Linked DNA regions of Homo sapiens: all the other regions are linked to region 4. Evidence: fine-mapped expression QTL. A gene starts in region 4. Each other region holds a variant in brackets. All regions are shown on one strand. Distances are from middle to middle. Region 1 overlaps NCAPD3 (non-SMC condensin II complex subunit D3). Region 2 holds the start of GLB1L3 (galactosidase beta 1 like 3). Region 3 overlaps LINC02731 (long intergenic non-protein coding RNA 2731). Region 4 holds the start of NCAPD3 (non-SMC condensin II complex subunit D3). Region 5 overlaps NCAPD3 (non-SMC condensin II complex subunit D3). Region 6 overlaps ACAD8 (acyl-CoA dehydrogenase family member 8).

Region 1 (4,087 bases), 38 kb after region 4:
AACAGCCACGTTTTAACTTCATCACCTCTGTAAAGGCCCTATAGGAGGGAATGGTAGAGGTGATGAAAGCTGAGCCTGAGGTTTGGAGGAGTTGGAAGAGGAAATATTTTATTCAACTGAACAAACATATTTTGAGGACTTCATTTTCCAGGACTGGTTCTAAGTGCTGGAGATTCACAGAATAGTTCAGTGCACTTCCTCTCCTCCAGTTGCTCTTGGTCTAGTGAAATAGACAAAAGCAAGTCACAATTTTAGTGGAAAGGGAGCTACAGGAGAACAGAGGAAGGGCACCTGGCATTTTGGTGATTATTTCTTCCTCTTTGTCCTCTTTCTTTCTTCTTCTGGCTTAGGGTGGCTTCCCAGAAGTAGTGGCGTGGGTAGAATATTTGGGAATGTGTAGGAATTCAGCAGCCAGAGTAGTAAGGGTTACCAGAAAGGAAATAGTCATGCAAAAGCTCAGAGGCCAGAAGGCTCTATGAAATCTCAGGAAAATGCCTGAATCAATTGCTGTTGACTGAGGTGTGGAGAGCAGAAGTCGGGCAGGTTGAGGACAGAGGGAGTGCTGGAGATGGAAGCCCAGCTTCAACTTGAATGCTTTGTCACACCTCAGTTGGGAGCTCTTGGTAATGCATGAGGTCACCCAGAGTTAGGTTGGAGATAAGAGGACTAAGAATAGAGCTTTTCAAATCAGCAATTAGTTATTAGAAGACAGGAATTAGTTACAGGAGATGAAAAGAGATCCAACTGGTGGACCAGAGTCTCAGCGCAAGAGTAGTCAGTAACCTCTGGTGGAGGCCATGGAGACGGGCCTGAAGCATGGCCGTTGGTTTTGGTACTAAGATAGAAGTTAGTGTGTTGGGTCACAGTCTGCCCAGGTGGGGAATGGCTGTGGCCCTCAGCTGGGCTGGGAGGCTGGCTGGGAGTGGAGGGCTGGGAGTTGTCAAAGAGGAGCCAAGTTTGAGATTTCTGCAAGTTCAGAGGATTTTTTCCCAATTCTGTTGGCTACATATAATAAACATTACTTAATATTTTATATCGTTATTTTTAAATAAATTTAAAAATACTTGTTCATTGCTTATATCTTGTGGTATTTGGACATAAATCAGACATAAATCATGTTGTAAGCTAACTGTAGTAAGACTTGACATCTGTGGATGGATTTTTAATCAATAGCTGATATATTAGCAAAACTTCATTTATATGCATATGCTTATTATGGTATATAGATGTGTTTATTTTGTTACAGTTACCTTATTCTGTATGTTTTGAGAATTTCCCTTCTAAAAACAGTTTAATGAGGAATTCCTGATGTTCGCGTGTGGGTATGTATGTGTATGTGTTTTCCCAGAAGTCTAAGAAAAATTAATCAAGGGAAGAAGTGTATTTTTCTCTTCATTTAAATATATAATATGGCATTGTCTCATGAATCATATGATCCCATTCAGTGACTTGGGAAGAAGTAAAATAAGAGATAGTTCTAAAACAACAGTGACAGCCAGGCACAGTGGCTCACAACTATAATCTCAGTACTTTGGAAGGCCAAGACAGGAGGATGGCTTGAGCCCAGAAGTTCAAGACCAGTCTAGACAACATAGTGAGACCCTGTCTCAAGAAAGACAGACAAAGAGAGAGAGAGAGAAATTA[G/A]CCAGGTATGGTGACCATGCCTGTAGTCTCAGCTACTCTGGAGGCTGAGGGAAGAGGATTGATTGAACCCAGGAGGTGGAGGCTACACAGAGAGCTGTGATCATACTACTGTGATCCAGCCTGGGTGACAGAGTGAGACCCTGTCTCAAAAACTAGTAATATAACACAAACACTTTAGTACATCAGAAGCATTGTTTTTTATTTTGAAAAGGTTTGAAATATCTATTTCTGAGTGGTATTAAGTTATTGCATATTTTAGCTCATTTAATATCATCATATTTAATTGTTAGGTTGTCATTTACAATCCTGCCATGTAGTCCCAGCTACTCGGGAGGCTGAGGCAGGAGAATGGTGTGAACCCGGGAGGTGGAGCTTGCAGTGAGCCGAGATCGCGCCATTGCACTCCAGCCTGGGCGACAGAGCGAGACTCCATCTCAAGAAAAAAAAAAAAAAAAGGACAATGTTACTAATTTTTGTCACTATAACTGTGTAAGCTCTGGATGTATCTGTAACTGACCCCATGCAGTTATGTAGAAATTTTGGAGGGGAGGAGGATAAGAAGAGTCTGAAATGAATTGTGAAATTTTATTCTTTACTTTAAGGAATATTTTATGAGGGGAAAAATGAATATAACTGATAGTAGAATAATAAAAATTTAAAAGATACCTAGTTTGGTATCAGACACGCCACTAATTAGGAACGTCTACATATAAGTTTCATGTGCCACTTGAGTCCTGGAGCAGCAGAAGTTGATACCCTTTCAGTGAGGCTCCCATCTGAATCATTTTGTATATTTACAGTTGCAATTCTGCTTTTCTATCTTTTTTTTTTCCAGCCGATATTTAAATAAGGCTTTTCATATCTGGTCCAAGAAAGAAAAATTCTCACCCACTTTTATAAACAATGTAATATCTCACACTGGCACGGAACATTCGGCACCTGCCTGGATGCTGCTCTCCAAGATTGCTGGCTCCTCACCCAGGCTGGACTACAGCAGAATAATACAATCTTGGGAGAAAATCAGCAGGTTTGTATCTTCTAATTTAACCAGTAATGACACTGAAGAGTCTTAGAAACAAAGCCCAAGACTTAAGGAAGTGAGCTTTTTCATAGCTATTCATATACAGAGACCTTCTGTTTAAAACCTGGTATAAAAACAAGCATGAAAAAAATAAGAATCATGTTTCACCCATTTCCCCTTTGTCCAAGTACATTAAATGCCTTGATGTTCCCACAGCTTGACTCCTAAGCCATGCTACCTACCCTGCTTCCTCCAGTGTTATTAATCCAGAAGAAAGGCCTTTGTTGGCAGCAGTGTTTAACTTGCTTCTCCCTTCATATTCCTCCTGCCCTTTCTCTAGTCAGCAGAATCCCAATTCAAACACCTTAGGACATATTCTCTGTGTGATTGGGCATATTGCAAAGCATCTTCCTAAGAGCACCCGGGACAAAGTGACTGGTGAGTGTCTGCTGGAGAATCTTATGTGAAAATGCATTGCTGTTCATTTCAGGTGTGTGTGTGTGTGTGTGTGTGTGTGTGTGTGTGTGTGTATATATACCTGAATATATTTAAGCAGTTGAACTTCAGGGGTTTTGACTTCCTTCATAGATGCTGTCAAGTGTAAGCTGAATGGATTTCAGTGGTCTCTAGAGGTGATCAGTTCAGCTGTTGACGCCTTGCAGAGGCTTTGTAGAGCATCTGCAGAGACACCAGCAGAGGAGCAGGTATGGCCAGACTTTCCCTGACATGTTTCTGACTTCTTTGAGCTTAGGATGTTACTGTATGTGTTTTGAAGTGTGAGGAGCATTCTCTATAAATAAGAGGACGTGTAAGGATGTCCCCCGCAGCTATTGCCGCAACAAGGCAAGGTTTACATAACTAGCAATTGACATTCCCCAAGAAGATTTAGCTGCCTAAGAGACACGGCACCCTTAGATGGTCACCACCTTGATCGCAGGTGCGAGTGTCTTTAGGTAAGCATTCCTGTTGATTGTCATTTCCTGGTGAGAATTCTGCAAGGTTCTCTTTCTCCTTGACTTCCACTCTCATTCCAAGAACACTTATAGACAATTTTCCACTTAAGCAGGAAGTTCCCTCCAGAACAGGTTTCTGACCTTCTGATAAGTCATAATCTTGGACATGCCTGTCCTGTTACTATGAGGTTACACTACTCAAATATCTCTTGTTGGTATCGTGTCCCCACAGTTGCCTATAGCCCACAGCTAGTGTTTTTATATAAACAGAAATCCACATCAGTGATTTATGGGAGGCAGAGAGGTACTTTGACTCCTTAAAAGGTATGCATACCAGTAACTGAAGAAATAATTTTATTACCATATATTTATTCTGTTTTTATCATGAGATATACTCTTAGTACCAATCATAATGAAAAAATGTAGAGCTGGGGTTATTAATAATGGCTATAGAAAACAAAAATTAAAT
Region 2 (4,087 bases), 50 kb before region 4:
CGGGGACTTCATCGCGGCCAGGCCGAGGCGCCGAGGGTCCCTTGCGGCTTCCGCCCCTCTCCGCTGGCCCCGACGCCGCGCTCGGGCCGGGACTCGAGCCCCGGTTCCGCGGGGCAGGCTCAGGTCTGCGCGCTGCGCCTGCAGCCGAGGCAGAAATCCGTCCCGAGGCGCGGGCGCCGGGTCCGGGTCCCAAGGATGCGCGTCGGGCTCCCTCCCGCGGGGACAGCCGAGCTCCGCCGGCGCTCCAGGTGTTCCCGCAGTGCGTCCGGGCGCGGACGCCTCTCTGCCCTCGGAGGGGAAGCGGGAGGGCCCTTGGGGTAACGCCCCGACCTCGGGCTTCCTAACCTGGGTCGACAGCCGGCTGGCACAGGGAGGCCTGCGCGGGAGAGGGGCGGAGAGAGCGCAGCGCGGGGCACAGCGGGCGGTCTCCGTGCCGCGCGCGCGACTGGAAACGGCGTGCAGATCCTAAAACGAGGGTTCCACAGAGGGCCACGAGGGGCAGGAGAGAGTCCCCGGAGAACTCTAGCTCCCCGACACGGCTACCTCTTGGCAAACGAGCGAGAATTGGGGCGCAGAGCCTTGGGAGGGCCGTTCCCTCGGCGGGAGCGGCCCGAGCACAGCCTCACAGCAGATGCGAGCGCGGCGGGCGCTTTGGTGACGAAGTAGCGGGACCTGCAGGAGGCAGAGGCCTGGTGGGGCCGTGGACGCCACGCCGAGCTGCCCAGACCCTTCCAGAAGACAGTGGGGACTATTCAACGGTTTCCAGCAGAAACTAAGCCAGGTGTTCGTTTTACGGAGATTGCTCGGCTGCAGGGTGGAGGCTGGATGAGAACAGGCGTCCTCTCAGGTAGGCGCTCGTGGTGGTAACGCTGCCCAGGAGGAGGGCACGGGTTCCGGGAAGACTTGCGAGGTTAAACCGGCAGCTCCGGAGAACTGAGCGCAAGAGGTCGGTGACACAGAGAGGAGTCCGGGAGGCCGCATGTTTCAGGCTGAAGTCACTTGGCGGGGACGTTTATTGAGATGCGAAACACAGGAAGGGATAGAGGCTGCGCAGAGGGAAAAGGCGATGGACTCGGTTTTGGAAACGCTGATGTGAAGTCCCTACGATGAAAAAAGAAATCTTCCGATTTCTCCCTTTGAAGTCTTTGCTTCTTCCGTTGCAAAGAACACAGCCTATGACATCAGGTTGAAACCAAGAATGTAGTTCTCTGAAAATACTGTGTGTGGGGGAGGGAGTTTATCTTGTCTCATTCCTTACAAGGATACTTTGCTCTCCGACACCTTAGCTCCCTGAAAGTTTCCTAGATCGTCCATCTTTTCCTCATTTTTTCGACTGCAAGCAATGAACTGTTAATTTTTTACAGTTTGGTTTTACAGCCACACACTTTATTCTTCTTTGTCAAGTTTAAAGTATTCTAGGGCTTGTGCCTTCCCACATAAAATTTAGAATAAACTTGTCTGTTTCTACAAAAAGCCATGTTGGTATTTCGAGAGGAATTGCAATCAACCTATGGATCAAATTGAGAATTGTATCCTTATTATGTTGAATCTTCCAACCCACGAACATGGTATGTCTGTCTATTTAAATAGTTTTTTTTTTTTCACTTCTTTCATCAGAATTGTGTGATTTTTTCAACATCAGATCCTATCACGTTTTGTTAGGTTTATACTTAAATATTTCCTTTGCTCTCAAGAGATTTAAACTGTTATTATTTTTATTTCAGTTTTTACATGTTTGTTGTTAGCATACAGAAATGTGATTGTGTTTCTCATGTTGATCTCATATCCTGTGACCTTGGCAAACTCACCTATTAATTTTAAGAGGTTATTTGTGTATTACTTGGCATTTTCCATGTAGATAATCATGTCATCTGCAAATATGGAGAGTTTTATTTCTACCTTTCCAGTCTGCGTGGCTTTTTATTCCTTTTTTTGTGTGTCTTAGTATGATGACTAAAATTTCTGTGTTGAATAAGAGCGGCAGGAACTGACACTGTTACCTTGTCCCCAGTGTCAGCTGGAAAACATTCTGTTTTTCACTATTAAGTA[T/C]GATGACAGCTATAGGTTTTGTGTACATATTCTCTATCAAGTTGAAAGAGTTTGACAGCTGGGCCTGCAGTCACTAGAAATGCTGTGGTGCTTTATTGGAACAAGCTATGTATCAAGAATTGTGATTTTCTGCAGGCGTTGCTGGAGGAATTTTGACAAAGGTAGAAGAATCAAATAATGGATTATTGGTTCATTTGAAAGATGACATATCCTGTGTCCTTTTGCCATCTGGGGCTCCCCTCTGCTGATGGAGTATTTGAGAACCTCTATGAAGGAGCCCTGGAGAGTGAAAGTTCCCCCAGATTTCTGTGCTCATTAAACCTGTAGAACTCTTGAAAATGTGCAAGGTGAAGTAACAATTTTGATCAAACAAAGCTGTCAGTTTCTGTCTTGAGATTACAGAAGTAACTCTACAAGGCCAACATCCCAAGCACAGGAAAGACCAGCCACTAGGGCCGCAGACCCAGCATCCTGGTACAATTTATTAAAAAAAAAAAAAAAAATCAATATTTTTCCCTTCAGTTTCCATCCAGATAACTGATAATGAAACAAAGAGCTAATTTCCCAAAGCAGGCAGAAAGCATCAAAAAGCTCCCAGAGCTGAGTGTGCAAACTTCCTGTGCCAGTGCTTTGATGTTAATAAAGCACAATTCCTGCTCCTAAATTGCTCTCTTGTAAGAACAGCAGCTTCCAGAAAAAGAAGGCAGCACTTTCTGTTGCTTTAGTAGTGGACAACCCTATAGGAGTTAATGTATGAACCAGAAAAGACAATTCTTGATTTCTTCTTAGGTTGAACTTCTTAAAGAAATGTATGTGACAACTGTATAATAAGAACCCTTGTGAGATCCAAAAACCTGGGTTAGGAACTAATATTATCAGTGAAAAATTAAAGGGAAAGATTATCAACTATTAATATTCCAGTGTCAGAGAGCTGTGAACAAAGAGTTGAGGCAGAGATATCTTTAAGGTTAAAGTATGCAAAATCTGTTGTTTACTTGTAAGATCATCTTTCTAGGTTTATTGATAGTTAATAAAAAGCAGCAAAATTTATAAAAGTGAAAATTTAGCCACTTCTACTTGTAAGCCATCCTTGTTAGAGAAACTCTTTGTTTACTTAAGTCATGTTTACTACAGGAAATGAAAAATGCTCATTTGAGCTATAAAATGGACTCCGTGGTCTCTTAGTAATTAATTTAACCCATGATGACACGCAGTTCACAGGCTGAGATGGAGGGATAGGTAGATGACAGATACATCCCTGCTAGAGATCTTCAGAGCCCTAGCTTTAAATTTCATCCTTACAGACATTCAAACTTTAAGTAAATTGATAACCTGTCTCCCACAGATTAAAAAATAAATGAAGTGGATATGCACCCCATCACGCAGGGCCACTCCCAGCAGAGGGAAGTGAAGCAGCCGGCCTCCTGTCCCTCCACAGGGTAACTAACGCTCAAGTGCAGGCCTTTCTAAAGGAGCTGCTCAGCAGGCGGCAGCCCAGCTCGGCCACCGGGCTCTGGCTGTTATCATTCAAATGTGCCTTTTTTATGGACTGAGTCTGCTAGATGCATTCATTAGTTAAGGAAATGGAAAATCATGCGGAGCTCCAGGTGAGAACCCAAGGTTAAAGTGTGTTCTCAAGAGTCTTCTCCCCTGGGAGTTGAAGTTAATCAGCCTGATCAGGTCGGGGGGGAAGGCTTCCTCTCTGCATGAGTGCAGCCTTGGTGATGGAAAAGGGCCACCCTTGAGAAGGTAAGAGAGGAGGGAAGATCGCTGTCTCCATGGGGCACCCAGCAAGAGGCTGCTGTCCTTGCAGATAACCTGATCCATTGAGCTAAGAGCTGGATGGGGAGTGTCTGTAAGAATATTAAAATCCTTATCCAAAAGTGATTTATTTTCATCAGGTTTTTTCCTCTGTTATGAATAGCTGACATTTACCAAGCACTCGTGTGCCAGGCACAGTTCTGCATGTTTGACATTTCTGTCTATTGTCTCTTAACTCTCACAGCACCAGAAAGCGGGTACCATTAGTATCCCTCCT
Region 3 (4,087 bases), 180 kb after region 4:
TGTTCAGAGCTCAGTCAAAAGGGCAGGGGGAATTGGGGTGGCATGGAGACTCAGTCTCTCTGCCGATAGATAAGTCTGCCAGGACTTCCCCGGTACCTCCTCTCTGCCCACAGCAGCCACAGGTATTCTGAACATGCTGAAAGACAAGACAGGGTCTGGACATCAGGAGCCCAGAAAGATCATCTTCGTCCTGTAGCTCGGTGGCTCGGCCTCGGGAGGCTGTCTTGCAGGGCCTCACTGATCATCATTCAGAGGGAGCTGCATGGGGAAGGAGAGGGAGATGGTGCAGTTGGATGCCTGCCTCTCTTGGGCACTGATGGGCTGGGTGAGGGTCTCTTGAAGGGTGGTCCCCCCTTGAGTGGGAGCAGATGGACTGGAGGGGCATGGCTCACGTACAGGTTGGTGGAGGAGCTTCCCCCAACCTGGGCCCTGGAGGACACAGTTCCCAAATGGAGTCTTTTCTTCCTATGCTGTTGAAAGGCGGCACTACCATCTGCTCAGGTCCATGCGCTGGAAACTTTAGGGTCCTCCAGTGGCCCCAGGCCTGTCCCTTCCTTCCTCTAGCCCTCAGCAGGTTCTCCTGCTCTCTTCTTGCCAATGTGCGGCCTCCTGGTCTTGCTGCAGACCCAGCCCTCCTTCCCCCCGGTCTCATCTGCAGGTCTGCAGTGCCCCTGGCTGAGCTTTCTAGACATGTCACAATGTTGCCAGATTTTTCTTTCTGAAACTTAGATTTTATGATGTCATTCCCTGCTTGAAAATCGTGGTCACCGCACTGTCTTCAGGAGAAGGTGAAACCCCCCAGCCCAGGCCTTCTCAGCCTCTGTGCTCTCTGCATTCTGGGGGGGCTCTGCTCTGCTGTGGGGGCTGCCCTGTGCATGGTGGGTGCTTAGCAGCACCCTGGCCCTACCCACCAGGGGCGGGGAGCAGCCTCCCTCCCACTCCTGCAAGTTGTGACAACCAAACATGTCTCCAGCCATTGCCAAATGACCTCTGAGGGGTAAAATCGGTTGAGAATCACTGTGGTAGCCTATAAAATAGGATAATAATAACTAATGACAATGCTTACTTACTCAGCTCTGTGCTAACAGCTTTCCATGAGGTCTCTCATTTAATCTTCAAAATATCTCTATAGGGAAGGCCCTATTAGTATCTCCATCTTACAGATGCTCAGAAGGCAGAAGGAGTCCAGATCTTTCAAGATAAAAAGACTTTTTCCTTCCATGTGGGGTAAGAAGAGAGGTAGATAATTCAAAATCACTTCTCCTTCAGGCAAGAGCCACAGAACCGGAGGCAAGTCAGGCAGGCTTGAGCTCCAGTCTGTCTGCTGGCAAGATCTGATTTCTCCCCACGAGCCCCTGTCCACGCTTCCCAATCCCACACCTTCATGCAGGCCAGTTCCCTGCCTGAGAAGTTCCTCTTTGGCCTGGGGAGATCTGTTCATTATTCAGGGCCCAGGCAAAAGCCCCTGTCCTGTTCTCTGTGAAGGCCCCCAGGCCCCAGGAGGAAGAGAGAATTATCCCTTCTGCGTGGCTCATGACCACACACACCCTGGGTGACGAGTCCTGCAATGGCTAATTGTGCAGGCATCTTATTCTGTGCCAGCCTATCTTGGGGCAGGGGTCTGGGGGTGGGGACTCCGGCTGGTCCTCCTTCATCATGATGACATGGAGTGCCTTGCACAGAGCGCTGGATCCCCAAATGTGTGTGGAGTGGAATGCAGTGGGGCAGTAGGCGGGTAGTGGCTCCTTCCAGGACGTGACGCTGAGCCCACTGGACACCAGGAACCACAGGGCCTCCCGGCAGGCAAGGGAGACCGAGGGCCCCTCCTCTGGGCTGACGCAGACTCTCAG[C/T]AGAAGACATGGCTTAAGGAGCAACACATGGCTGGGTTTTGGCCGCCTTGGCTGGGGCCTCTGAGCCATGCCTAAACTGCAGACTTGAGGGATGATGCAGCTCAGAGCTTGCTTTGGTGTCTGGAGTAACGAAGGCTCGTGTTCTCTCTCACGCAGGCTTCTAAGAGTGTGTGCATGCAGGCACGTGCTGCTGTGCGTGAGTGCACAGCATGTGTGCTGTGTGGAAAGAGAGGCTGTGGGTGCCCTTTCCCAGGCGTGCCGCATCACTGAGGCACTGGTCATAGGCAGCATTTGCGCATTTCTGCTCTTGACACTGGGTTGCATACACAGTCCTGTCACACAGAGTCAAGGTCCAGGAACCCACCAGCGTTCTAGAGCCTTGAAGAGTGCTGTCCGCTCCCTGCCTGCCCCACGTTGCACCTAGGCAGACGGCAGTCCGAGCTCCGCTCCCCGCCTGCCCCACACTGCACCTAGGCAGATGGCAATCCGAGCTCGCTCTCCTTTCTCCCTCTCTCCCGGCTAGAGGAACGGAGCTCACACAGCATTGACCCCTGCCTGGCCTCTCTAAGCAGTTGCCAGACCCCCTGTAGCTGGATGACCACTGGACTGGGGAGGCGGTCTCGGCCAATGGTGGTGGGCAGGTGGGATCAGCTGAATGAGTCCCAGGAGAAGCCAAGTGCAGAAGCTGGCACTTCGTGTTTCCTATTGCCAACCAGCAGAGAAAGGCCTTCTTGAGAAGAAGTCATAATTTTTGGAAGAGTGGCTGAACAGAGAAGAAACAAGGCACAGGGGCTGGGGCCATTCCCCAAGATAGGCCCAGACTGTGCCTGTGGCCATGTGCCTCATGAGAGTGTGCCCACCTGGGTCGTGTGAGGCAGGGGCTGGGGTGGGGAGGCAGTTATACTTGTGAAGTATGCATAGTGGGTAGCTGTACACCAACCCACGTGAAGAGAGTGTAGGCCGGAGTTTCCAGGGACGTTTCTGGCCTCACTCCTGCTTGCACGTATGCATGGTACGCGTGTGTACATGCCAGAATAAGAGCATGTGCACCCTGTCTGTGTCAGTGTGTCCCTGCTGTACACACATACACCCCACGTGCCTTCATCTCTGCACCTTCAGGGGTACCCACCTCTGGGCCCAAGCTCTAAATTAGCAGACACACACACACGGCATTCATGGTCTCCAGACTCCTCTACATTTGAAAACAGACAAGGGGAAAAAAAGGGCCAAGAGACAAGACGAGCTAAAAATAGCCGAATATAAGCTCTTCAGATCAGAAAGCTCGGTGTTTTAGTGAGTCACCAGTTTTCCAGACTGAGCATGCACGCACGCACACACACATGCAAACACAAACACCGACATCCCGCCAAGTCACGCCCGCATTGCCGAAGATGCCCTGGGTCCCACACACCCTGTGCTCTGTTCTCACAAGGTAAAATCACCCTCCAAAAGTGGTGATTCTCTGGTCTCTGCTGAATGCTCTCTTGTTGAGCTTGGAAGGCACGAACTATTCCCCAGCTCCCTGCAAACACCTATGCACTTTCATCTCCGCCTTCTCAGCCTCTTCTGATTTGTCTGTGTTTCCTAACCCCAGCCCCACTCCACTTTGTAATGGTTGGCAGAAGACAATGGTCTTTCTGTCCTACTAAGGGTTATGCTGCACTTTTCAGGGGGCCCTGACGCTGGAGAGGTCAGACAGCTCTCTGCACAGCATCTCTGGAGCTGGCCTTTGTGCTTAGGGAGAGGAGACAGCTCCGGACGCCATGCAAGATTTATGAATGTGTTTTGTTAATTGCATTAGTGGCTCTGTGGGAGGATGGTGTGTGCTTTGGCCTTAAACAAGGTGAGCTCAAAAGCGGCAATGGGAGAGGGGACAGGACCAAGGCTGTGTGTATGAGCACCCTGCCATCCTGGGCTGCATGGACCCCCTTGCCCTCTGTTCCCCACGCTCTTGCTGAAGCCAGGGCTCTGTCCCTGCCCTCCTGAGCTCTTGTCTACGTTGCTGCTCAGGCCGGCCTTCCCCTCCTTGGCTCCTTGGGTTGAGAGAGGCCAGACTTGCAGTCATCTTCGATAACTCTATTTCTCTTTTTCTTTCTCTCTTCCTCTTTCTCCCTCATTCTTATCTTTCCTCTTTCTCTTTCCCTTTAAATCCTTCCCTCCGTCTTCACCCACCTTCACCTCTGTCTTTGTGAAATCTAAATCTGCTTTACTCTAAGCGTTTCAATAATTCAGGCTCC
Region 4 (4,084 bases):
CTCCTGGGTTCAAACAATCCTCCCATCTTAGCCCCCCGAGGAGCTAGGACTACCGGCAAGCACCACCACGACCAGCTAATTACAAAAAAATTTTTGGGGGTAGAGGCAGGTCTTGCTATATTGCCCAGGCTGGTCTCCAACTCCTGGCCTCAAGCAATCCTCCCACTTCAGCCTCTCAAAGTGCTGGGATTGTAGGCATCAGCCACTGTGCCTGGCGCTGTCTAGTTCCAATGATTAATAATCATGTTTAAAGCATTGAGAAACTCTGATCACTTAATTGTGGTTTTTAGAAACACCATTTCTTTGTCTTTAAACAGAAAATGTGGTAACTGAAAACTTGCATTCTAATAAAGAAGTCTAAGAAACGCAGCCTAGGTAGTCAGATTTAGACTGAAGATTATGGGTCTTCTTTCTGGAAACATGTACAAGCATAGGTAGTTCAGGGCTGAGGTGAGGTAAGAGAGAACTGGTTAGCTCTCTCACACCACATCTAAAGAGAAAAACGGGTTGGTGCGGGCTCTGGGAAGTGGGGCTCGGTGGACGAGCCTCACTTTGCGTCTGGCAGTTGCAGATGGCCGGGCGATGGGAAAGCCAGTATTGGCAGAGCGGTCTCCCCCTAACAAACCCACCTGCAGGCTATGGCCAGAGCACCTCACCCAGAAATCCTGGGGACAAGAAGCAAAGCCGAGTGCATGCCGGAGACAATGGGGAGAACCCATAGGCAAGGTGCCCATCCCACGAGGCACAGCAGGGCGCTTCCTCCCGCCCTCGCCGTCCCCATCTCCCTGGCAGCGCGCTGTCACTTTTGGCAGGGAGGACAGTAACGCAGGGGGAGTCGCCCACGGGCGGGACTTGTAGCTGAACCCCAGGCCTCAGACTGCAGTTGACAAGCGACTGTGACAGGCCTCGCCGGAGGAGCTGGGCCCTGAATCACCCTGCTCCCCGGCCGGCTGTCGGCGCTGGGGGAGGGGGTCCCGGGGGTCGACTCACCGATCTGCCCGATGAACTCGATCTTGATGCCCTGGTGCTCCAGCCGCTTGTTGGGGTTCTTGAGGGCAAGGCTCACCTTCCCGGAGACCGTCTCCCCGTCGTAGAAGAGGAAATATTTCTCCTTCTTCCCGTCCTCCGTCTTGTGCTCGGCCCGCTTCCTACTCTCTGCATCGTTCAGAAGGATTTCCACCTCCACGCTCTGCCCGAAGCCGAAGAAGCTCATCGCACCGCCGGGCCGGGCGGGTCTCGGTAAGGACCGCTCCCTCGCACCGGGGCGCGGGCTGCCCTAGGTAAAGAAGGCCAGAGGGCCCGATGCGCGAGCGCGCTCGGCCGCCGCGGGGCTGCCTGGCTCCGCCGCTGCCGCCGGGCAGTGGGCGCCGACGGACAGCCGGCTCCACGGGGGAGGGGCACGGCCGGGGGAGGCTGGCGGCTGCGGGCTGCGGCGCCCGAGCAGCAATGCACCGAGGAGCAGTGCCCTCGGCCGAGCCAGTCCCAGCCAGTCCCGCGGCCGGTGGCAGTGGGCGGGCGAGGGTCGGCCGTGCAATGCTGCGGGGGGCAGCCGCACAGAGCCGGGTGTGGGTGGCCTGCGCCTGCCGGGTGGGGTCCAGCGCCGAGCAGCGCTGCGAGCTGCCCAGCCTCCGGCGGTGCAACGCACCGAGGCGCTTCGGCGGCTCCGGGCGGGGGAGGGGGCGGGCGAGCTCCAGCCCGGATGCGCTGGAGCAGCGGCGCGCAGGCGCACCCCCTAACGCTCCTGGGACTCCCGGCAGCCCGGAGGAGAGCTCGCTGCGCATGCGCAGGGAGAGCGCGGCCGGCGCTCCAGCGGTCGGCATGGCAGCTGCTACCTCGCTGGGACAGGCTCTGGGCCCACGCGTGCCGCGCAGTCCCTACAGAACTGCAGTTGTCTTGTCTTCTCGGAGTGCTTTCGGCTACTTTTCCCTTATTACTTTAGCTCGATACACGTTGGGCTGCCTTTCACATTCGGATATTACGCTGTTCGAGTGCTGACGGGAAAGGCAGCCCTTTGACACGCACGCGAAATGTCGCCTGACGAGGGCAAAGGTGACAGTTACTACCGGAAGTACCCTATCTCAGATACCCTTTAGATTTTCCCCCATTGAAGAAAAACGAGGCGGGAAAAACGCTGTTAGGGTTTAACTCAGGCCCTGGCTCCTTCTCGAACGAATTAGCGGAACACCCGCAGGAGCCTTGTTTGGCTTCCACTTTTCGGCCCGCCCAGTTCTCTGAGCGTGCGGCGGACGACGCCGGTGATTGGTTGAGCGAATGGAAACGGCTCGGCGCGGTGGTTGGCCAGTGGGAAATTCTGTACGTTGTGATTGGTCCACAGGAACGACTCGGCGCGCGCGCGGGAGCGAGCTTTGAAAGTTGAGCACGGCGGCGGCGAGCCGGTGCCCTGGGATCATGGTGGCGTTGCGGGGCCTTGGTAGCGGCCTGCAGCCCTGGTGTCCGCTGGATCTTAGACTCGGTGAGCAGATGCAGCCGGGAGGCCCGGGGGCCAGGGCGAGGGTCCTATGCGTCCCCGACGATGCCTAAGCCCGGGCCGGGGTGCCGGTGGGGGCGGGGTGGGGGCGCCCGGCTGTCGGCGGTGCCTGGGGTCCCCAGGGCCGTGCCACGCCAGGATTGCGGCTAGCCAGGTTTCCCGTGGGGGCTCAAGCCGGCCAGGCCACCCTTAGAATAAGCGAATGTTGGCCAGTCTCTTCTAGCGCCTGTGCATCTGTTTTCTCGGCCTTCCCCTTCTTCCTGTGCGTGTCTTCGTGCACCTATCTATTCTTACCTATTAAGATGGTTTTAAATTGCAAATCTCTTTCTTCCGCCAGACTTATTTCTTGAACTTCATGTTCATAGGTTCCACTGGATGTCTCACATGCAGACATCATCAAACGTCACATGAGTGAAAATGGGATTCCCAAAGCCTGCTAATGGCACCATCCAAGCCACCAACCCAGGAGTCATGGCATTTCTGCTTCCCCTTTCATGCCCACTACCACTGTCCTGCCTCTGAGGTGTCTCAGGGCAGCCCCGCTCCATTCCTGATGCTGCTGCCTTCATCATAGCCTCGAGCAATTGCAGGAGTATTTTAGCTGCTTTCTGATGTTAACTGTGCCAGCCCATCCCCCACACTTTTGCAGAACGACTTTTGAAAACACAGCTTTGAATGTGTCAAGCCTGTACACCTTTAATGTTTCCCCTTTGTTTCCTAAATAAATGACCACATCCTTGGCATGCTTTATAAGAGCTGCCATTCTCTCCAGTTTGATTTTCCAAGAGCATAACCTTTGGAGTCGGACACACTTGGATTGTTCCCTTGGCTCTACCCCATAGCATCCATGTATTACCGTGCAGGTTGTTTATCCTTGCTAAACCCCTGTTTTCTGATCTGTCAAATGGGGAGTACAATATCTACCTCACAGGGGTTTTTGTAAAGATAAATTTGTACTTGCCACATAATAACTGCTGAACAGATACTAATACCCACAAGCAAACACTGTAACAATTTTGTTCATTTAGAAACACTTTAATTTCTTTCCCTTTGTGTGCTTTGTTACACTGTGCTTGCTGGGAGGCACTTTTCTGCATTTATTTGCCTGGCAAAACTCTTACATTCAGGTCCAATTGAAGAATCATCTTATTCCTCTCCCTCCTCCCCCAGTACTATTCCCTATTAAGCTCTGTAGCATTTTACATTTTACATATCTATTATTTTAACACTCATCCATAGCAAAAATAATAAATACCATCTATTGACTGTTTTTTATGTGGCTAGCACATTGTTAGGGCCTTTATACACATTATGTTTCACAAAAATCCTGTATTTCCAATGATGAAGGAGAGACTAATTATGTGTAAGTGATCAAGTCAGGATATTTGCCTCGTTCTGACTCAAAATTCAGTGGCCTCTCTTCTATCATAGGCTGCTTTTTTTGGTATCCTAAGTGTGAAATGTTGAGATCTTTGTGGACAAGAACCCTCTAGTATTCATCTTTATATCCCTAGAAGTATAAGTGGCTTCCCTAGTATTTTCTCAAAGTGTTTGTTGAGTGAATAGGTGATGTATTTCTTCCTCTTCTTCCATCCT
Region 5 (4,087 bases), 68 kb after region 4:
AAGAAAAGATACTCACGTTTGAGGTGATGGAGATGCCAATTACCCTGATTTGATCATTACGTTGTCCACATGTATCAAAATCTCATATGGACCCCCAACCATGTACAACTATCATATATCCGTTTTTGAAAACTTAAAAAGTATTAGAATGTACATACTCTTTATCTTCTCTACCAGGTTGCCCTGTGTTTAGAAACAGTGCCAGTTCCTGCTGGCCAAGAAAACCCTGCCATGTCACCTGCCGTGAGCCAGCCCTGCACACCCAGGGCAAGTGCTGGCCATGTAGCAGTATCATCTCCTACACCTGAAACAGGGCCATTGCAGAGGTTGCTGCCCAAAGCCAGGTAAAGAGCCCCTGGAGGCCACATCAGGGCTGGTTCTCTGTGGCGATGTTCTCAGAGGCGTCCCTGCCATTCCCAAGCGTGGGCAGGAAAGTCATTGTCATTGTCTGGCCTGCCACCCCGCTCCACACTGTGCCCTGGGAGGTTTGAATGAGGGTGGTGAGGGATGCGCCGGTGAGGAGGCACGCGGGGACACAGTGCAGCACTGTCACCTCTGCAGTGGTCTGCAGTGAGAAAGTCAGCGGCTGTGGCTGTTCTCCACAGGCCCATGTCCCTGAGCACCATTGCAATCCTGAATTCTGTCAAGAAAGCCGTGGAGTCAAAGAGCAGGCATCGGAGTCGGAGCTTAGGAGTGCTGCCTTTCACTTTAAATTCTGGAAGCCCAGAAAAAACGTGCAGTCAGGGTAAGCCTTATGTTTGGTGCCAGACACAGTAGAGCATTTACAGATGAAAACACAGAACAAGCTACTTCTTATTCCTTTCAAAGCGGTGTGTTTTCTTATCTTTAAAACAAATAACGTTAATTGGGCTTTTAGGATCATGGGTAGTAAAACAATGCATATTTATTCTAGGAGATTTGGAAAATAGAGTGAAATATGAAACTCACCCATAGCAGTGAGGCATTCCTTCCTCCAGCTATTCTGTTCCTCTTACACACACGTGTTTTGTTTTGTTTATGGAATTGTGATCTGTGCGTGCATTGTTTTATGACCTGTTTCCCTGCATTCTTAAGTCAGATGTAGTAGATGTAGTAGACAGCTTCCATGAACTTTTCTTTCCAACCTTTGCTTTCAGTGGCTTTATAGCATTGTGGCTGTGGAAATAACTGATTTATTACTATCCTGTTCTTTGAAATGTTGATTTTCAATTTTTCCATACAAATACTATCACAGTAAACATCCTTGTACATATAGCCTTGTATGTATGTAATCCTTGGGATTAATTCCCAGCAGTCAAAGGCCATGGATATTTAAAAACTTTGGATAGTGTCAAACTGTCCTCTATCACTTATGCCAAGTTAGACTCTTTTATTTTTTTGAATCCTAATGAGAATGGACATTTTTTCTCATGTTTATCATTTATTTGTATTTCTTCCTGAATTGCCTCTTTATAAGAAAATTGTAAACACTAGTGATTTTGACTTTACGTCTTGCAGATATGTTTTCTCATGTGGTTGTTTTGCTCTTCGTTATTGTTTGGGG[G/T]TATTTCTGGATAGCAGCACCTTTTCTGTTCTAGTGTCTTCATACAGTTTGGAGCAAGAGTCGAATGGCGAGATTGAGCACGTGACCAAGCGGGCCATCAGCACCCCCGAGAGTGAGTAACTGATCGGAACACGTGGGCTTCTCCTCAGTCTCTCCTGCATTCGTGATGTGTTTGCTAGAGTCGCAGTAAAACTCCTTCCGGTGCAGGATAGTTCTGATGGTCAGAACCATGAGTGCATTGCTGAGGTGGAGTATTTCACAGTGACCACGGTCGCTTGATCCATGAGCACTGACCGAGTATGTTGTTCCAGTGTCGTTACATTCAGTCAGTCAAACACCACAGTGGCCCGCGGAGCAGACAATGCCGTTGAGGCACAGGTAGGTTGGGTGACTGACCCAGTGGTGCCTTCTGGAGGCGGCCCTCCGTGTCTCTGGGCTGTCCGGGTGCACTGGGCGCTGCTGGGTGGGCCTGCTCCCAGGGCGGGCAGACGTCAGCACCAGCAGGTACCATGCACGCTCTGCAACTGCCAAGACCAGAGACCCGGGGACCCCTGCTCGGAGCCTGTGTCTCATTCCCCTCCATGTTTTTTCCTACTGTTTGTGCTTTTCCTTTGATTTCAAAACAGAGGTGAGTTAGGAGAGTTGAGTATTCTTTTCCTATTATCTTGTGTGATAGCTTCATATTGTGTCAAACCTCATAAAAACCATTATTTTGAGAAAACTCTTACAGGAAGAAGAAATGCTTCCTGTCCTAAATCTGTGGAGTAGTGGCTAGGCCCTGCCGCCGTGTCCCTGTGTGCCCCTCGCTCTGCGCCCGGCTGTGCACAGTGCCCTCAGCAAGCTGCATCCAGCCCCGCTCGTCCCTGGCCATTCCACTCCTCACTGTTTCCACAGACCACAGTGCCTGGAACCTGGGAGGTGTCAGAGATCTCCTCCCGGAGACTTCTGGGAGGGCAGAGCTGGGCGCTGAGCCCAGGCCTTCTGGTCCCAACTCTTGTGCCCCTTCTCCAGCCTGTCTCCTAGTCCTGACTGCAGGGGAAGATGAGAGCGTGCTAAGGTGCTCTTCCTGGTAACAGAGCAGCAAGGTGTCCTGCCGTTCGTTTAGTCACTGCTTCAGTCAGCTCATGTGTGTGGAGCACCTGCTGTATTCTAGCTACTTGCTTGTTTGGTTCTGTCACACTGATGCTGTGATCTCTTAGAATAGTTAACAGGTTAGAGGTAATTTTCATCCAGGTCCCCCTTTGAAGGGAGTTTATCCCACCCCCACCCTCAGACGACAACCGAATCATGACGGCATTTGTCATTAAAGGCAGTGGGTAATTTGGGATCCTGCGTCGTGGACAGGTGCGATGTTCTGTGTGTTAGAGCTTGCTGTGTGTTCGATGTTCCTGGCTCAGGAGTGCCAAGAGCTTCTATTTTGGCAGTGAGGTGCCATATGCTGAAGAAACGGGGAGAACGCATCTCATTTTCGTTGTGCTCATCCTGAGTCCCTGATGTCAGTGTTGGGTTGTTTCCTAGCAGCTCGTGTTTCTCCACAGGGCAGCCTGGCGTGGAGGGTTCATGCCGCCCTCATCTGCCTGTGTGGAGCCACGCTTTGTGCTGGAAATCAGGCGCCCGGTGTCATTGAGTTGGTAGAGTACTTGTTCTTGCTCCAGGCTCTTGGACATAATATTCCTGCTGATGCAGTCTCTGTCCGTCTCTCTTTATACTGAACCAGGAAGAAATGCCTGGAGGTCTCCCCTTCCTGGGAGAACTGTTAGATAGTTTAAAAGCACTCAGTTCTGTTTTCTCTGTGGTTTATACGTCCAGATTCTTTTTGGCAACTTTTAGTTTAGGTGGGGGAGACTGTCAGGAAGTGTCTCAGCTCTTCAAAGCTGGCAGGAAAGATGCCACCCAGTTCAGCACCAATTCACAGTGGCTTTGCTAAATGGAAATGAAAATTAGTCAATTTTCAGAGCGAGGATTTTAACTGAAAATCTGTGGGGGTTTTAGCAAGTCCCTGTTACTGTTACCATTCGGGTGGCACAGACGCTGCTGCCTTCGATTCTACGCACAGTGCATGGGGGACGTCAGAGCCCCCGCACCCGGGCTTCTGTAAAGATGGGAGACTAATTTCCTGGAGTGCATATGGGCTTCCAAACAGGAAGAGCAGTGTGTGTGTCAGGAAGGGAATTTCATGTGACAGCACAAGGAGAGACTTCACCGAAACAGAATAAGCAGATCTAGCAGTGATGAGGAATTCTCTACCATCGTCTATTAGTGACACTCAAGTAGCCATCGGGTACACAGCTGCAGTGCGCTGATGAGCTTTGAACTGTAAATGGGAAGACACAGTCCATACTCAAGACACCAAGTGGAGAACGGGGAGCGCTCTGAAGCTGCCTCCTCGCATGTGCTTGCAGAAGGGCAGCAGGTTCAGTGGTACCAGCAAGCAGCTGCCCAGCCCGTGCTGTTCCCGGGAGTGTGCTGGTGGCAGCTTATGCACTGGGTACAGCACCACCCAGGAGGGGCGAGGCTGCACCACCCAGGAGGGGCGAGGCTGCA
Region 6 (4,087 bases), 38 kb before region 4:
AATTAAAATTAAAAATGTACCAACAAAGGCAGAGTAAAATGCCTAAAAGGAGATGTACCAAAATAACATTCTGGATGTAGAAACATGAGTGATTTTTTTTCTTTTACTTTTCTTTTGAGACAGTCTTGCTGTCGCCCAGGCTGGAGTGCAGTGGTGTGATCTTGGCTCACTGCAACCTCCGCCCCCCAGGTTCAAGCAATTCTCTTGCCTCAGCCTCCTGAGTAGCTGGGACCACAAGCATGTGCCACCAGGCCCCACCAGGCCCGGCTAATTTTTTGTATTGTTTTTAGATGGAGTCTCACTGTCACCCAGGCTGGAGTGCGATGGTGCAATCTCAGCTCACTGCAACCTCCACCTCCTGGGTTCAAGCGATCTTCCTGCCTCAGCCTCTCGAGTAGCTGGGATTCCAGGCATGCACCACCACGCCCAGCTAACTTTTTATAATTTTAGACAGTCGGGGCTTCACCGGGTTGGCCAAGCTGGTCTCGAACTCCTGGCCTCACGCGATCCACCCGCCTCAGCCTCCCAAAGTGCGGCGATTATAGACATAAGCTACCGCACCCAGCCTACTTTTCCTAATTTTATAAGGTTTCAACAATAAATACACATTTCTTTGGTAATCAGAAAACTGACTTACAAAAGAATGAAAACATTTTCCCTGAAAGGAGGGTATCAATTATTTGCTTCATTTTTAGCAGTGGCCTTTAATGCAAAAAGAAATATAAACCCCCTCGAGGAATCAGTAGTCACATCGTCTCAAATAAAGCATAAACTGTAGATTTATCCAACAGTAAAGTCCATGATGAAACAAAGTGATACAGTGATGAGTGCCCCAATTCTTCTGTAAGTGGGTGATGGTGTGGCCTACAATAAATGTTTTCCTGCTTATTATTGCAGGGTGGAGAGAGAGTTAGAATGAAGGCGAAGTTTCCTACGCACATAAAGCTCAGTGAGAAAGCAATTCCAAGAGTAATGGAAGGAAAACGACTCTCGGGAATTCAGTTTGAACACTGGCGACTGAGCCCATAAACATCTTTCTGGAATGAGGTTTGCAGAAGAAAGCAGCGGTCTAACCTGTGGTAGCCTGTGACTCTGACATTAACACCAGAGCGGTGGGTCTCAAAGTGTGGTTCTCAGACAAGCTGTGGCAGCCTCACTTGAAGACTTGTTGCAGATACAAATTCCCAGGCCCACACTAGACCCTCTGGAGCAGAAGCTCTGGGGTTGAGGCCCGCAATCTGCGCTCCCATGCCCTCCAGGCGATTCCAGCACAGGCTGAGGTTTGAGAAGGGTGCTGTGAAAGGGGCAGGGAAGCCCCATTATATAATGTTTCCAGCAAGGCAGCCTCACGTTGCTTCACCGAAGTCACTCAAAGAAGCCTCTGCCCCTCCTGCTTTTCCAAGAGTCGTGTCATTTCAAGACTTCCGCACTGGCTGTAGAGAGTGGAGACAGCCAGGCTCCGAGCCCGACCCCAACGGCTTCCATGTTTCCTCGATAGAATGTCTGTGACTACCAAGAAGATACCCATATAGTGATGGTTTATTTTATTGAAAAATACACTAGTAATATTGAGACAGGTATCTTTTAGGCCATCTGGCTGATAATCAATATAGAGCTACTGATGACCATACTGGCTCACATTTGCCTTGTCCATCACTGTTCTTGGATCCCTGAGAACCACGTACTCGATAACCTTAGAGAAAAGCCCCGGCTGTGGTTTTCAACATGCTTTCTCATCCATTATCTCAGTTCACCCTTCTCGCAGATCTCCAGAGGAAAAGGGCAGCAGCAGAGCGATCTGAGGCCCCCCGAAAGGGACGAAGCTGCGGCTCTGGACTCCAGGCCCCTGCCAGAACAGCTCTGCGGAACGGGAGGGAGGAGGAAGCCTCGAGACAGACAGGGCTTGACTGCACCCTGAGGCCCAGGAGGCATGGGGACAGAGAGTGGGGAAAGCAGCGATCCCGCCCCCGTTCTGAAGGGAAGAGAATAACCTCTGGCAATTTTTACCTTCTAGAATCTGGTGGACCCTGGAGTCCCGCACGTACTGCTGAACAGCGTAATCCTTCAGGTAGCCGTAGCCCCCGTGCATCTGCAAGGCCTGGTTGCAGATCTGCAGGGAGACAGGGACTAGACGTCTTGGACTCTGGGAAGACTGTGGAGCAAGCAGCTTCCCTTCCTACCCCAGCCCACGATCTGGCAGCCCGCCATAAAC[C/G]CATGAAAGAACCACAAACAGCCAAGCTCAAAGAGGGCCTCCACATTCTGTATGGTTAGAGACAAGGGAAGTTCACCTACTAAACTTGTCAGTTCCCCCCAGACAGGCGACTCAAAGCCCTCTGCCCCTCTCCCTTATTACCTGCCAGGCAGAAGCTGCCCACAGCCACCCTGGCTGGGATGATAAAAAGCTATGGTTCCCCCTAGTGGCAATGCAGCCTGACAATGTAAACATGGCAGAGTGCTAAATTGGGGCTGCTGTGAACCTTCCAAAGGTGGTTTCTCGCCTAGAACACAACCAAACAACAGTGACATAATGAAGTGTATAATGGCATGCAGCAGGCCTAAAAGCCAGCGATGAGAGCTCCCACATAGGCCGCTCATGAGTTCATTTATATCCTTAAGCTTAAGGTGATCCTTGTGGGATTCCAGGAGGGCTGGGTTCCAAATCTGACTCATGTCTCTCAAGACCCCTGGGCCTAGCAGCTGTTCCCTGTCCATCCCAGGAGAGCCAGAGGAATCACTTACGGCAAAGCATTCATCTGTAGCAAAGAGCTTGGCCATGGAGCACAAGGCCACTGCATCCTTCCTCTCCTCCTGCAGAGCCACTGCTGCATTGCGGACCATCAGCCGCGCGGCCACCAGCCTTGTTGCCATATCAGCCAGTGTGAATTGCAAGTACTGCAGCACAGGGAGCAGAGAACCAGACAAGACTGAGGGGCTTAGACCAGCACCTGGTGCAGGAGCCTCGGTAAGACATCTCGGAGGCGCCTTTTCTAAGTGATCCAAAGCTTCAAAGTCTCTTGCTTTTTCTATAGAGGAAATTTATTGCTTTTAAGTGCTAAGTCCACTTCACTCACCCGACACTTTAATATCGTTAAAGATATCCCAAGAAAAGATGGACAGAAATAAAGCACAAGCTCTGGCTAGGACAGTGGTGGGACTGACAGAGGAATTTCCTGGCTTCTCTCCTGGAAATGTGGGCCCTAGAGCAGGTCCCGGGCTGCAAATAGTGCAAAGCCATGTGGAGGCAAGGCAGAGGTTACCTGGTTACTGGCCAGAGGCTCTCCAAACTGCTTCCGGACATTGAGGTGGTCTCGGGTGAGGATGACAGAGGCGTGGGCAGCCCCCAGGGAGCAGGAAGCTAGAGGGGAAGAGCGCCGACGTTCCAACCAAGCTGGAAAACAGCAGTGCCTGTCCCGGACCGCTACCTCCCTGCCACACCCCTGCGTATCTCACCAATATTGATCCTCCCTCCGTTCAGTCCTCTCACGGCAATGAGGAAGCCCTGCCCCTCGCTCCCAATTCTGTTGGCCACAGGGACAGCACAGTCTTCGAAGATCACAGCTCGTGTTGGCTGGGAGTTCCACCCCACCTGGCAAAAATCAGGGACTGCGTGGTTGCCCAACAATCCAGCAGGTAGGGCGGCCTTCCCTGGGGACGGGAGCCTGTGAGGTATGGGTTTCAGCACCCAAGACTTAGACCCACAAGAACTTAAAATGAGGAAAAAGAAAAAGTTCAGGTTTAAAGGCCTGTCAGCACTCAGAAAGATACCTGTTTCAGCTAAACATTTTCTAACTTATTAAGAGAATCTACTAATGTCTACTCTACCTGACTAACCTACAAACACTTCTCACAACTTCTTTTAGGATTGTGACACCAACTGCCCCCAATTTCAGTGCCTCTAATTGAAAACCACAAACTATCTACAATCTCCCAGTTCCTCTCTGGCTCTGAAAATAGACTGCCTTTACATCATTTCCTTGCTCTCTTTTGTTGATAGGATAAACTCCATTTCTAAGCCTTTTACTGAAGGTCTTCCTGCCCAGGAGTTAGCATGGGCTTCACACACAGTAGAAGCCTAGGAAATGGTTGC

The links. PIP is the estimated chance that this variant, and not a neighbour inherited with it, causes the effect.
Region 1: its variant is fine-mapped to the expression of NCAPD3 in whole blood (TOPMed, PIP above 0.99).
Region 2: its variant is fine-mapped to the expression of NCAPD3 in whole blood (INTERVAL, PIP above 0.99).
Region 3: its variant is fine-mapped to the expression of NCAPD3 in whole blood (TOPMed, PIP 0.99).
Region 5: its variant is fine-mapped to the expression of NCAPD3 in whole blood (TOPMed, PIP above 0.99).
Region 6: its variant is fine-mapped to the expression of NCAPD3 in whole blood (INTERVAL, PIP 0.98).

Annotation. Positions count from the first base shown.
Region 1 is chr11:134,183,919-134,188,005 of GRCh38, reverse strand. It overlaps NCAPD3 (non-SMC condensin II complex subunit D3), which reads left to right. Exons shown (of 35, transcript NM_015261.3): 17 at 2,480-2,671; 18 at 3,006-3,103; 19 at 3,254-3,369. Among named protein-coding and RNA genes, the nearest start is that of SNORD153, 35 kb to the right of the region's middle. The variant G/A (reference allele first, on the strand shown) is at 1,645.
Region 2 is chr11:134,272,666-134,276,752 of GRCh38, reverse strand. GLB1L3 (galactosidase beta 1 like 3) reads right to left here and starts at 374. Exons shown (of 20, transcript NM_001080407.3): 1 at 1-374. The coding sequence starts at 12. RefSeq lists a silencer at 196-265 and enhancers at 716-765, 916-1,045, 1,106-1,215, 3,356-3,911. The variant T/C (reference allele first, on the strand shown) is at 2,050.
Region 3 is chr11:134,040,279-134,044,365 of GRCh38, reverse strand. LINC02731 (long intergenic non-protein coding RNA 2731) reads right to left here. Exons shown (of 3, transcript NR_027276.1): 3 at 3,025-4,087. Among named protein-coding and RNA genes, the nearest start is that of LINC02731, 10 kb to the right of the region's middle. The variant C/T (reference allele first, on the strand shown) is at 1,851.
Region 4 is chr11:134,222,252-134,226,335 of GRCh38, reverse strand. It overlaps NCAPD3 (non-SMC condensin II complex subunit D3), which reads left to right and starts at 2,369. Exons shown (of 35, transcript NM_015261.3): 1 at 2,369-2,473. The coding sequence starts at 2,410. It overlaps VPS26B (VPS26 retromer complex component B), which reads right to left and starts at 1,665. Exons shown (of 6, transcript NM_052875.5): 1 at 991-1,665. The coding sequence starts at 1,213. RefSeq lists enhancers at 779-928, 1,029-1,088, 1,879-1,928 and a silencer at 1,289-1,758.
Region 5 is chr11:134,154,586-134,158,672 of GRCh38, reverse strand. It overlaps NCAPD3 (non-SMC condensin II complex subunit D3), which reads left to right. Exons shown (of 35, transcript NM_015261.3): 30 at 178-344; 31 at 606-745; 32 at 1,578-1,655. Among named protein-coding and RNA genes, the nearest start is that of SNORD153, 5.3 kb to the right of the region's middle. RefSeq lists an enhancer at 422-923. The variant G/T (reference allele first, on the strand shown) is at 1,544.
Region 6 is chr11:134,260,543-134,264,629 of GRCh38, reverse strand. ACAD8 (acyl-CoA dehydrogenase family member 8) reads right to left here. Exons shown (of 11, transcript NM_014384.3): 7 at 3,451-3,586; 8 at 3,258-3,355; 9 at 2,740-2,892; 10 at 2,008-2,110. Among named protein-coding and RNA genes, the nearest start is that of ACAD8, 9.0 kb to the right of the region's middle. RefSeq lists silencers at 2,448-2,497, 4,000-4,049. The variant C/G (reference allele first, on the strand shown) is at 2,213.